Linked DNA regions of Homo sapiens: all the other regions are linked to region 1. Evidence: fine-mapped expression QTL. A gene starts in region 1. Each other region holds a variant in brackets. All regions are shown on one strand. Distances are between the middles of the regions.

The links. PIP is the estimated chance that this variant, and not a neighbour inherited with it, causes the effect.
Region 2: its variant is the best candidate, but not a certain one, in a credible set for the expression of TMEM127 in blood mononuclear cells (TOPMed, PIP 0.61).
Region 3: its variant is the best candidate, but not a certain one, in a credible set for the expression of TMEM127 in whole blood (INTERVAL, PIP 0.51).

Annotation. Positions count from the first base shown.
Region 1 is chr2:96,264,213-96,268,384 of GRCh38, reverse strand. It overlaps TMEM127 (transmembrane protein 127), which reads left to right and starts at 2,388. Exons shown (of 4, transcript NM_017849.4): 1 at 2,388-2,516; 2 at 2,873-3,247. The coding sequence starts at 3,004. It overlaps CIAO1 (cytosolic iron-sulfur assembly component 1), which reads right to left and starts at 2,160. Exons shown (of 7, transcript NM_004804.3): 1 at 1,896-2,160; 2 at 916-1,064; 3 at 649-760; 4 at 461-549. The coding sequence starts at 2,034. RefSeq lists enhancers at 1-971, 1,569-1,848, 2,079-2,268 and silencers at 2,499-2,548, 2,559-2,768, 2,819-3,128.
Region 2 is chr2:96,379,143-96,383,314 of GRCh38, reverse strand. No RefSeq gene overlaps it. Among named protein-coding and RNA genes, the nearest start is that of NCAPH, 45 kb to the right of the region's middle. The variant C/T (reference allele first, on the strand shown) is at 2,054.
Region 3 is chr2:96,241,315-96,245,486 of GRCh38, reverse strand. STARD7-AS1 (STARD7 antisense RNA 1) reads right to left here. Exons shown (of 4, transcript NR_046322.1): 4 at 2,864-3,610. Among named protein-coding and RNA genes, the nearest start is that of TMEM127, 23 kb to the left of the region's middle. RefSeq lists enhancers at 3,324-3,373, 3,394-3,653. The variant A/G (reference allele first, on the strand shown) is at 2,176.

The DNA of each region.
Region 1 (4,172 bases):
GTATCTGCTTTTATTTTATTTTATTATTTATTTGAGATGAAGTTTGCTGTTGTTGCCCAGGCTGGAGTGCAATAGCACGATCTCGGCTCACCGTAACCCCCGTCTCCTGGGTTCAAGTGATTCTCCTGCCTCAGCCTCCCGAATAGCTGGGATTACAGGCATGTGCCACCATGCCCGCTAATTTTGTATTTTTAGTAGAGACGGAGTTTCACCATGTTGGCCAGGCTGGTCTCGAACTCCTGACCTCAGATGATCCACCCACCATGGCCTCCCAAAGTGCTGAGATTATAGGTGTGAGCCACCACACCCAGCCGGATCTGTTTTTATAAAGGGACTAATGTTTTTTGTTCACAGATGGAACTCTCCGTAAAAGCTAGATTAAGGCTGAAAAGCAGAGGAAGGCTGGGCACAAGCCTGCACACCAGAGCCCTTCCCACAAGAGTCCCTGCTTGACTCTTACCTCCTGACTTGGGTGCCAAACCACATGCTTGACATCCTGTGTGTGGGAGTTGAGAACACTGACACATTCATACTCATCCTCTTCATCAACTGTGGGAGAGAAAAAGGGGACCCAAGAGCCGACCCTGTCAGGGACACAGAGGGGGCTGTCAGGTGGTTCCCAATCCACCTGGAGGGACCTGGCCTCACCTTCCCAGACCCAAACGCTCTTATCTCGGCTGCAAGTGGCCAGGAGGTTGCCAGATGGGGCCCAAGCCACTGACTTGACCTCATTTTCATGGCCCTCGAGAGTGGTTACACACTGTGAAAGGGGAAAGAAAATGAGAATTAACAGCAGCTAACACCCCTAAGCCCCTTCCCATGGGTACAGCCCAACTGGCGCAGGTTGGCTCAGGTTCCTGAACCAGCCCTGGGGAGGAAACAGGCAATAATTCTGGTCCCAACCAGCCTGGGTACCTCAAAGTCATCCTGGTTCTTCTTCCAAATGCAAGTGGTAGCATCAAAGCTGGCAGAGGCCAGGTAATTACCGCAGGGGGACCAGGCTACCTTCCGCACGGTGCGCTGGTGGCCTTCAGAAAGGACAGACTTGCAGATCCAGCTGTCACCTAAAGGCGGAGCGCAGGCCAGGCTCTGGAGCTGGGTGCAGCACCATGAAGCCATTCAATATCAGGGGCTAGCACTGGAATCAAGCTAGTGGGGGAAAGCTCAGGGAGTGTATTTCACAGCTTTTACAAAGATGCAAATGAATCTACTTCGTCTGGAAGCTTTTTTTTTTTTTTTTTTTTTTTTTTGAGACGGAGTTTTTGCTCTGATGCCCAGGCTGGGGTGCAATGGCACAATCTCGGCTCACTGCAATCTTCGCCTCCTGGGTTCAAGGGATTCTCCTGCCTCAGCCTCCCGAGTAGCTGGGATTACAGGTGCCCGCCACAACGCCCAGCTAATTTTGTAGTTTTAGTAGAGACGGGGTTTCACCATGTTGGCCAGGCTGGTCTTGACCTCTTGACCTCAGGTGATCTACCCGCCTCTGCTTCCCAAACTGCTAGGATTACAGGCGTGAGCCACCGCGCCCAACCTCTGGAGGCATCTTTCTAAAACAAATCTGATCTAAAATTGCTATTGGTTCCCCAATGCCCTCGGGATAAAATGTGACCATCCAGTCGCAAGTTACTCTGAAGGCCACTTTCCTAACACCTCTCTTTTCCCATTTTCCTGCCTCTGCAGCTAACACAATTCCCTTGACATTTCAGCTTGTCTGCTGACGTTTTTCCTCCCAACAGTCGCAGACTTCTTTGCCTGTAAAGCCCTTCTCGGCGTGGCTAACATCCCACTCTCCCTCCGCCAGGAACAGGTTCAGCCTCCCCTGCAGGCTGAGCGCCTGCACTACGCGCAGGCTGAGCCCTCAGCGCTGAGGGCCGCGCAACCAGGCTGGGCCTTACCCTCCGTGCCCCAGATGCGGATTCTCCGGTCGCCGCCGCACGAGGCCAGCAGGGTCCCCGCGGGGTTCCAGGCCAGGAACCAGCAGCGGGAGTCCGGGTGCGCCGGGACACGGCCCAGCAGCACCAGCGAGTCCTTCATGTCGGCCCGACGCAGGGGGAGGTGGGGGCGGGCAGAGTCCGCTGAGCAGACAGCGGGTCTCACCGCGCGCGTCTGCGTACCGCCCACTCCAGGCTTCCGCGGCCGACAGAGGCTCCCGCTTCCGCCGGAGGACCTGGGTCGCCCCGGAAACTCAACTGCCCACTGCTGCGGCCGCCATACCCTCTGGGAGTTGTAGTCGCTCCCCTCACCTCGGCAGGGAAAGCATCGCGGGACCGCCTCGAACTACCAGTCCCGTGAGGCCCTGCGCAGAGCCGGCGGCGCGCCCAGGCTGTGACGCGCGCGGGGGACGGGGCGGGGAGCCGGAGGAGGCGGAGGCAGAGGAGGAGGAAGCCGGAAGTGCATCGGCCCCGGGTCTGTCCGGGCGTTGCGGGATTGGGGCCTGGGAACGCTCGGCCCCCGGCAGCCGAGAAGCCCGTGACTGGGCTGAGCAGCACCATCCCAGCCCTGGGGCCTGCTGACTGGTGAGGAACAGTGGGCGGCGTGGGGAGGGTCTTTTCTGCGCACAGGTCGCACCCCAAACCGCCGGTCCCAGATCACGGGTCCCCGATCCCCGCGGCCCAGCCCGGTCCTCCGCCCCTCGGCATCCTCTGGCTGAGACCCTGACTCCGGGTCTTTGCTCTAGCAGTAGCCGATCCCCGATCCCTCCGCCCCCCACTCGAGTCTGCCCAGACCCCATCTGGCCCCTGGCCCTCTTCGGTTGTCGTCCCGCAGTCCCATTCCGGAGTCTCCTGTCTCCGCCCCCCGAATTCCCGCAGCCCTCCCCGTCTCCGTCAGCCCCGGGTCCCACCCCCCTATCCTCTGGTGTCAACCCTGACAGCCCAGTCCCGGCTTCACCTGCAGCGAACCCGGAGCGTTGCTATCCTCCACCGGACTGTCAGGCTCTGCGCGCCCCGCGGAGGTCGGCGGCGACCAGCAGCGACTGCGGAGCGACGGCGGGCGGCCCCGGGCATGTACGCCCCCGGAGGCGCAGGGCTGCCCGGCGGGCGCCGGCGGAGGAGCCCGGGAGGCAGCGCTCTGCCCAAGCAGCCGGAGCGTAGCCTGGCCTCGGCCCTGCCTGGCGCCCTGTCTATCACGGCGCTGTGCACTGCCCTCGCCGAGCCCGCCTGGTTGCACATCCACGGAGGCACCTGTTCGCGCCAGGAGCTGGGGGTCTCCGACGTGTTGGGCTATGTGCACCCGGACCTGCTGAAAGGTGAGGGTGCTGCGCGCTGGCCCTTAAAGCCTCGGTGGGGGACAGAATGTGTTCTGGCTGAAGCAGAGATAGCCAGGGACCAGACACTTGGTTGAAGGAAACGGCCCCATAACTGCCTGGTGTTCATGCCCACCAGGTGGCTCTGTTTGGGGTCCGGCCCCTCATTAATTCTGATGTTATTCAGCTAAGCACCTACTCCTCACAGCCATGTTAATCCGGACTGCTGCTATTTTAGGATTCTGCTGGAGGAAGGACGCTGTGTATCGAGAAAAGATAAGGGTGCTAGGTATCACAGTTAGCTGGCCTCTTCTAAGGATCCTGTGAAATACGGAAAAGCTTCTTTGGGGCAGACTGATTAATGGAGAAAAAGGAACTTTTAATATGACTAGGTTTTAAAAGATATCTTAGAGTTCTATGGTAATCGGATGCGTATTAGAGAAGAAGGGAATCTGTGGCATTTTAGGTAATCGGAAGACCGTTCCATTGCCACCCGCAGTACAACAGTCGGAATGTGGCTCTTGGAACCATTATAGGTGTGCCTGACAGAGGCAAGGTTGCTTTGTTCATCATCATGCTTTCCGGCCAGATAGACAGCAGACGATGGGAGGGTCCTATGGGCCCCATAGTTTATCCTGCCCATTCTTGTCTCCAGTAAAAATTGTGAAGTGTGAGGACAGGACTGGACTGTATCACCTGCTTTTTACCCTAACAATGATCAATGTACCCCAAACAGTCCTTAGTAACAGCATAGTTCATCAACCCCAAGGTCTTTTGAGCCATCTTGAAGGTCTTATATCCTCTCTGTGCTATCCTGTCTGTGCTATTCCCTGGCTGTGATGCATTCCAGATGTTTACTGCACCGCCTATCAGAAGCACTTCCTGTTAGATATCTGCGTGTTACCTCCTGAAGAATTCAGGCACTGGG
Region 2 (4,172 bases), 110 kb before region 1:
GTATAAGAATGCTTGTGATTTTTGTACATTGATTTTGTATCCTGAGACTTTGCTGAAGTTGCTTATCAGCTTAAGGAGATTTTGGGCTGAGACAATGGGGTTTTCTAGATATACAATCATGTCATCTGCAAACAGGGACAATTTGACTTCCTCTTTTCCTAATTGAATACCCTTTATTTCCTTCTCCTGCCTAATTGCCCTGGCCAGAACTTCCAACACTATGTTGAATAGGAGTGGTGAGAGAGGGCATCCCTGTCTTGTGCCAGTTTTCAAAGGGAATGCTTCCAGTTTTTGCCCTTTCAGTATGATATTGGCTATGGGTTTGTCATAGATGGCTCTTATTATTTTGAGATACGTCCCATCAATACCTAATTTATTGAGAGTTTTTAGCATGAAGGGTTGTTGAATTTTGTCAAAGGCCTTTTCTGCATCTATTGAGATAATCATGTGGTTTTTGTCTTTGGTTCTGTTTATATGCTGGATTACATTTATTGATTTGCATATATCGAACCAGCCTTGCATCCCAGGGATGAAGCTCTCTTGATCATGGTGGATAAGCTTTTTGATGTGCTGCTGGATTTGGTTTGCCAGTATTTTATTGAGGATTTTTGCATCAATGTTCATCAAGGATATTGGTCTAAAATTCTCTTCTTTGGTTGTGTCTCTGCCCGGCTTTGGTATCAGGATGATGCTGGCCTCATAAAATGAGTTAGGGAGGATTCCCTCTTTTTCTATTGATTGGAATAGTTTCAGAAGGAAGCATACCAGTTCCTCCTTGTACCTCTGGTAGAATTCGGCTGTGAATCCATCTGGTCCTGGACTCTTTTTGGTTGGTAAGCTATTGATTATTGCCACAATTTCAGAGCCTGTTATTGGTCTATTCAGAGATTCAACTTCTTCCTGGTTTAGTCTTGGGAGGGTGTATGTGTCCAGGAATTTATCCATTTCTTCTAGATTTTCCAGTTTATTTGCGTAGAGGTGTTTGTAGTATTCTCTGATGGTAGTTTGTATTTCTGTGGGATTGGTGGTGACATCCCCGTTATCATTTTTTATTGTGTCTATTTGATTCTTCTCTCTTTTCTTCTTTATTAGTCTTGCTAGTGGTCTATCAATTTTGTTGATCCTTTCAAAAAACCAGCTCCTGGATGCATTAATTTTTTGAAGGGTTTTTTGTGTCTCTATTTCCTTCAGTTCTGCTCTGATTTTAGTTATTTCTTGCCTTCTGCTAGCTTTTGAATGTGTTTGCTCTTGCTTTTCTAGTTCTTTCAACTGTGATGTTAGGGTGTCAATTTTGGATCTTTCCTGCTTTCTCTTGTGGGCATTTAGTGCTATAAATTTCCCTCTACACACTGCTTTGAATGTGTCCCAGAGATTCTGGTATGTTGTGTCTTTGTTCTTGTTGGTTTCAAAGAATATCTTTATTTCTGCCTTCATTTCGTTATGTACCCAGTAGTCATTCAGGAGCAGGTTGTTCAGTTTCCATGTAGTTGAGCGGTTTTGAGTGAGTTTCTTAATCCTGAGTTCCAGTTTGATTGCACTGTGGTCTGACAGACAGTTTGTTATAATTTCTGTTCTCTTATATTTGCTGAGGAGAGCTTCACTTCCAAGTATGTGGTCAATTTTGGAATAGGTGTGGTGTGGTGCTGAAAAAAATGTATATTCTGTTGATTTGGGGTGGAGAGTTCTGTAGATGTCTATTAGGTCCACTTGGTGCAGAGCTGAGTTCAATTCCTGGGTATCCTTGTTAACTTTCTGTCTCGTTGATCTGTCTAATGTTGACAGTGGGGTGTTAAAGTCTCCCATTATTATTGTGTGGGAATCTAAGTCTCTTTGTAGGTCACTCAGGACTTGCTTTATGAATCTGGATGCTCCTGTATTGGGTGCATATATATTTCGGATAGTTAGCTCTTCTTGTTGAATTGATCCCTTTACCATTATGTAATGGCCTTCTTTGTCTCTTTTGATCTTTGTTGGTTTAAAGTCTGTTTTATCAGAGACTAAGATTGCAACCCCTGCCTTTTTTTGTTTTCCATTTGCTTGGTGGATCTTCCTC[C/T]ATCCTTTTATTTTGAGCCTATGTGTGTCTCTGCACCTGAGATGGGTTTCCTGAATACAGCACACTGATGGGTCTTGACTCTTTATCCAATTTGCCAGTCTGTGTCTTTTGATTGGAGCATTTAGTCCATTTACATTTAAAGTTAATATTGTTATGTGTGAATTTGATCCTGGCATTATGATGTTAGCTGGTTATTTTGCTCGTTAGTTGATGCAGTTTCTTCCTAGCTTTGATGGTCTTTACATTTTGGCATGATTTTGCAGTGGCTGGTACCGGTTGTTCCTTTCCATGTTTAGCGCTTCCTTCAGGAGCTCTTTTAGGGCAGGCCTGGTGGTGACAAAATCTCTCAGCATTTGCTTGTCTGTAAAGTATTTTATTTCTCCTTCACTTATGAAGCTTAGTTTGGCAGGATATGAAATTCTGGGCTGAAAATTCTTTTCTTTAAGAATGTTGAATATTGGCCCCCACTCTCTTCTGGCTTGTAGATTTTCTGCTGAGAGATCTGCTATTAGTCTGATGGGCCTCCCTTTGTGGGTAACCCGACCTTTCTCTCTGGCTGCCCTTAACATTTTTTCCTTCATTTCAACTTTGGTGAATCTGACAATTATGTTTCTTGGAGTTGCTCTTCTCGAGGAGTATCTTTGTGGTGTTCTCCGTATTTCCTGAATCTGAATGTTGGCCTGCCTTGCTAGATTGGGGAAGTTCTCCTGGATAATATACTGCACAGTGTTTTCCAACTTGGTTCCATTCTCCCCGTCACTTTCAGGTACACCAGTCAGACTTAGATTTGGTCTTTTCACATAGTCCCATATTTCTTGGAGGCTTTGTTTGTTTCTTTTTATTCTTTTTTCTCTCAACTTCCCTTCTCGCTTCATTTCATTCATTTGATCTTCCATCACTGATACCCTTTCTTCCAGTTGATCGCATTGGCTCCTGAGGCTTCTGCATTCTTCACGTAGTTCTCGAGCCTTGGCTTTCAGCTCCATCAGCGCCTTTAAGCACTTCTCTGTAGTGGTTATTCTAGTTATACATTCGTCTAAATTTTTTTCAAAGTTTTTAACTTCTTCGCCTTTGGTTTGAATTTCCTCCTGTAGCTCGGAGTAGTTTGATCGTCTGAAGCCTTCTTCTCTCAACTCATCAAAGTCATTCTCCATCCAGCTTTGTTCCGTTGCTGGTGAGGAACTGCATTCCTTTGGAGGAGGAGAGGCATTCTGCTTTTTAGAGTTTCCAGTTTTTCTGCTCTGTTTCTTCCCCATCTTTGTGTTTTTATCTACTTTTGGTCTTTGATGATGGTGATGTACAGATGGGTTTTTGGTGTGGATGTCCTTTCTGCTTGTTAGTTTTCCTTCTAACAGACAGGACCCTCAGCTGCAGGTCTGTTGGAGTTTGCTAGAGGTCCCCTCCAGACCCTGTTTGCCTGGGTATCAGCAGCGGTGGCTGCAGAACAGCGGATTTTCATGAACCTCGAATGCTGCTGTGTGATCGTTCTTCTGGAATTTTTGTCTCAGAGGAGTACCCAGCCGTGTGAGGTGTCAGTCTGCCCCTACTGGGGGGTGCTTCCCGGTTAGGCTGCTCGGGGGTCAGGGGTCAGGGACCCACTTGAGGAGGCAGTCTGCCCGTTCTCAGATCTCCAGCTGCATGCTGGGAGAACCACTGCTCTCTTCAAAGCTGTCAGACAGGGACATTTAAGTCTGCAGAGGTTACTGCTGTCTCTTTGTCTGTGCCCTGCCCCCAGAGGTGGAGCCTACAGAGGCAGGCAGGCCTCCTTGAGCTGTGGTGGGCTCCACCCATTTCGAGCTTCCCGGCTGCTTTGTTTACCTAAGCAAGCCTGGGCAATGGTGGGCGCCCCTCCCTCAGCCTTGCTGCCACCTTGCAGTTTGATCTCAGACTGCTGTGCTAGCAATCAGGGGGACTCCGTGGGCATAGGACCCTCCAAGCCAGGTGCGGGATATAATCTCCTGGTGCGCCGTTTTTTAAGCCCGTCGGAAAAGTGCAGTATTAGGGTGGGAGTGACCCGATTTTCCAGGTGCTGTCTGTCACCCCTTTCTTTGACTAGGAAAGGGAACTCCCCGACCCCTTGCGCTTCCCGAGTGAGGCAATGCCTCGCCCTGCTTCGTCT
Region 3 (4,172 bases), 23 kb after region 1:
GGGCGCGAGGGCTCACGCCTGTAATTCCAGCACTTTGGGAAGCTGAGGTGGGTGGATCACTTGAGGTCAGGAGTTTGAGACCAGCCTGGCCAACAAGGTGAAACCCCGTCTCCATTAAAAATACAAAAATTAGCCGGGCGTGGTGGTGGGCGCCTGTAATCCCAGCTACTTGAGAGGCTGAGGCAGGAGAATTACTTGAACCTGGGAGGCAGAGGTTGCAGTGAGCCAAGATCATGCCACTGCACTCCAGTCTAGGTGACGGAGCAAGCCTCCGTCTCCAAAAAAAAAAAAAAAAAAAAAAAAAAAAGAAAGATATTGAGAAATTGGAGAGGGTCCAGGCAAGCATTCTGAGTGGATGAAAGGTTAAAAGTTCTAGAGAAAAGGATGTAATAGCAATCTTAAATGTGTGAGGAGATAATTATTTATTTGCTCAAATGTGTGACTTAAAAAGGCACGCCTTCTCTATAGGACTGTTTCCTTATATGTAAATGAGGGGCTGAACTGGGTGACTTTACAGTCCTGCCAGCCATAAAGATCCATGACTTCCTGAGAGGGGGCTGCCACGCTCTGTATCCACTGTGGGAGATGAAGAAGGACTGAGGAACTGAGCAGTTTAGCTGTAGCCTGTAGTACCAGCTACACAGGAGGCTGAGGCAGGAGGACCACTGGAACCCAAGAGTCTTGAGGCTGCAGTGCACTATGATCATACCTATGAATAGCCACTGCACTCCAGCCTGGGCAGCACCACCAGACCGCATCTTTCTTTCCTTTCTTTTTTTTCTTCTTTTGATGGAGTTTCGCTCGTCACCCAGGCTGGAGTGCAATGGGGTGATCTTTGCTCACTGCAACCTCCATCTCCCAGGTTCAAGTGATTCTCCTGCCTCAGCCTCCCAAGTAGCTGGGATTACAGGCATGTGCCACCATGCCCACCTAATTTTTGTATTATTAGTAGAGACAGGATTTCTCCATGTTGGCCAGGCTGGTCTCAAACTCCCAACCTCAGGTGATCTGCCCACTTCGGCCTCCCAAAGTGCTGGGATTACAGGTGTGAGCCACTGCTCCTGGCCTCTATTTATTTACTTACGTGAGTTTTTTTTTTTCCAATAGGTTTTTGGGGAACAGGTGGTGTTTGGTTATAGGAATAGGTCGTTTAGTGGTGATTTCTGAGATTTTGGTGCACCTACCACCTATGCAGTGCACACTGTACCCAATGTGTAGTCTTTTATCCTTCACCCCCTTCCCACCCTTTACCCTGAGTCCCTAAAGTCCATTGTACTCATCTCTATTAAAAAAAAAAGAAAAAAAGGCCAGGTGCAGTGGGCAGATCACTTGAGGTCAGGAGTTCACGATCAGCCTGGCCAAAATGCTGAAACCCCATCTCTACTTAAAAAAAAAAAATTAGCCAGGCATGGTGGTGTCTCGGCTGTAGTCTCAGCTACTCAGCAGGCTGAGGCAGGAGGATCACTGGAACCCAGGAGGCAGAAGTGGCAGTGAGCCAAAATTGAGCCACTGCCCTCCAGGCTGGGTGACAGAGCGAGACTCCATCTCAAAACAAAAACAAAAACAAAACAAAACGAACAACAACAGCAGCAAAAAAAGGCCAGGTTCAGTGGCTCACACCTGTAATCCCAGCACTTTCGGAGGCCGAGGTGGGCAGATCACTTGAGGTCAGGAGTTCGAGACCAGCCTAGCCGACATGGTGAAACTCCGGCTCTACTAAAAATACAAAAATTAGCTGGGTGTGGTGGCTTGCTCCTGTAGTACCAGCTACTCGGGAAGTTGAGGCAGGAGAATCACTTGAACCTGGGAGGCAGAGGTTGCAGTGAGCCAAGATTGCACCACTGCACTCCAGCCTGGGGGACCAGCCAGACCTTGTCTAAAAAAAAAAAAAAGGAAAGAAATAAATTCTTTTCCCATCTTTCTTTCTTTATTCTTATTTTTTGAGACAGCGTCTTCATCTGTTGCCCAAGGTAGAGTGCAGTGGCACAATCGCAGCTCATTGCAGCCTCTATCTCCTTAGGTTTAAGCAATCCTCACACTTCAGCCTCCAGGTTGCTGGGACTACAGGTGTGCAACACCACACCTGACTGATTTTTTTTTTTTCTTTTCTGTATTTTGTAGAGATGTGGTTTTGCCATGTTGCCCAGGCTGCTCTCAAACTCCTGGGCTCAAGCA[A/G]TCTACACACCTCAACTTCCCAAAGTGCTGGGATTACCACCACACTTGGCCCTTTTCTCATTTCTAAAGTGGGTTGTCTTTTATTGTTGAGTTTTAAGAGCTTTTGTTTGTTTTTGCCATCCTGTGCCACTCTGTTGCACAGGATGGAGTGCCGTGGAGCCATCTGGGCTCACTGAAACCTCCAACTCCTGGGTTCAAGTGGTTCTTCTGCCTCAGTCTTGAGTGAGCCACTACGCCCGCCTAATTTTTGTATTTTTAGAGAGATAGAGTTTCACCGTGTTGGCCAGGCTGGTCTCAAACTCCTGACCTCAGGTGATCCGCCTGCCTCGGCCTCCCAAAGAGCTGGGATTATAGGCATGAGCCACCATGCCCGGCTGAGTTTTAAGAGTTTTTATATATTCTAGATACCAGCCCCTTATCAAGTGGCACAGAGCAACTATGGCAGAGGGCCTACAGAGATTAAGTTTGTGCCCCATAGATATACACTAAAACATTTTGGAGAAATGGAAAAATATGGATTGATACTTTCCATTGCAACAGAATTCTTTTAAAAGACAAAAGAACCTTAGATATCCTCACCAAATTTCAGGATGAAGAACACAGATATTGGAAATTCTTGCTCTAATCTTACCTAAGGGTGTATTAGTCAGTGCTGTTTTAGTTGCAAAAACTAAAAACTCAACTCAAATTAGTCATGGAAGAAAGGAATTTATTGGCTGAGCAGCGGAGAAGTTAAATCCTGAGGTGAATTTGGGGCTCCCAAGATGTCTGGGCCTCCTCACTCCCCCTCTTCCAGCTCCACCCCTGATCACTGGCATCATTTCCTGGCCAGGCCCTTCTCTAGCCTTCAGTGTGGCAAGAGAGCAGTTTCATTTCCGGCTATCTCAGAGCACTGCATTCAACAGAAAACAAAGCAAGCCCTTTCCTTGGAGTTTACAAATGACTCAGGATTCACTCTGATTTGACCAAGAGTCAGAACCCTAATTGGCCAAGCCTGAAGTCACTTGTCTACCCCTGATACTGGGAATAGAATGCATGGATGAGAGGGAGGTGGGTGGTTCCATGAAAAGGAAATTCAAGCACTTTTCCTAAAAGAAGGGGGAATGGATGCTGAAACAACACGTCTCCCACAAAGGGAGCAGACACTGGGCTTGTGAAGCTGCCCCATACCTTCCCCACAGAACTGGGTTTCCCTCCTTGGTGCCCCTGACGGAGCCTTGTCTTCACCCTCCATTATGTATTCATCATGTGGCATCGTCACTGTTTCCTCCTCTGTCTCCAGAGTGTCTTCTCTTAGTTCTCAGCTAGTAAGAGAAGGAGGCTGGGCATGGTGGCTCATGCCTGTAATCCCAGCACTTTGGAAGGCCAAAGTGGAAGGATTGCTTGAAGCCAGGAGTTTGAGACCAGCCTGGGCAACAAAGTAAGACTCCCGTCTCTACAAAAAAGAAAAAAAAAGTTAGCTGGGCATGGTCATGTGCACCTGTGGTCCCAGCTACTTGGGAGGCAGAGGCAGGAAGACTGCTTGAGCCCAGGAGTTTAAGGCTGCAGCGAGCTATGATTGCACCACTGCACTCCAGCCTGGGTGACAGAGTGAGACCTCATCTATAAAATTTTTTTTTAAATGCAGGGGTGAAGGAAATAAGGAGGTAATTACTGAAAGAATGAAAGGTCATGCTAGAAATATACCATAAAATGCAATGGGGACTCAAAGAAGGGCAAGATTAAAGGGGACAGGAAATCTATTCTGGGGTGTCTTTGAGGGCCCTGAGAAATAAAACAAAGGAGTGGCAACAGGAACCAAAATATCCTCTTAATTACTGCTAGAGGGCTGGGCTGGAGGACACAGCTTTAGACCTGTGAACTAAGTGAGCTGCTAATGCAAATCCCACTAGGAGGCAGGCTCACCCGCCCAGCCATGGTAGCCCTCAACCAGAGAAAGCCTCCTTTAGTCCTGCAGGAGTGCAGCCCCCTCAGCGAGAGCAGTGGGATTTTATACC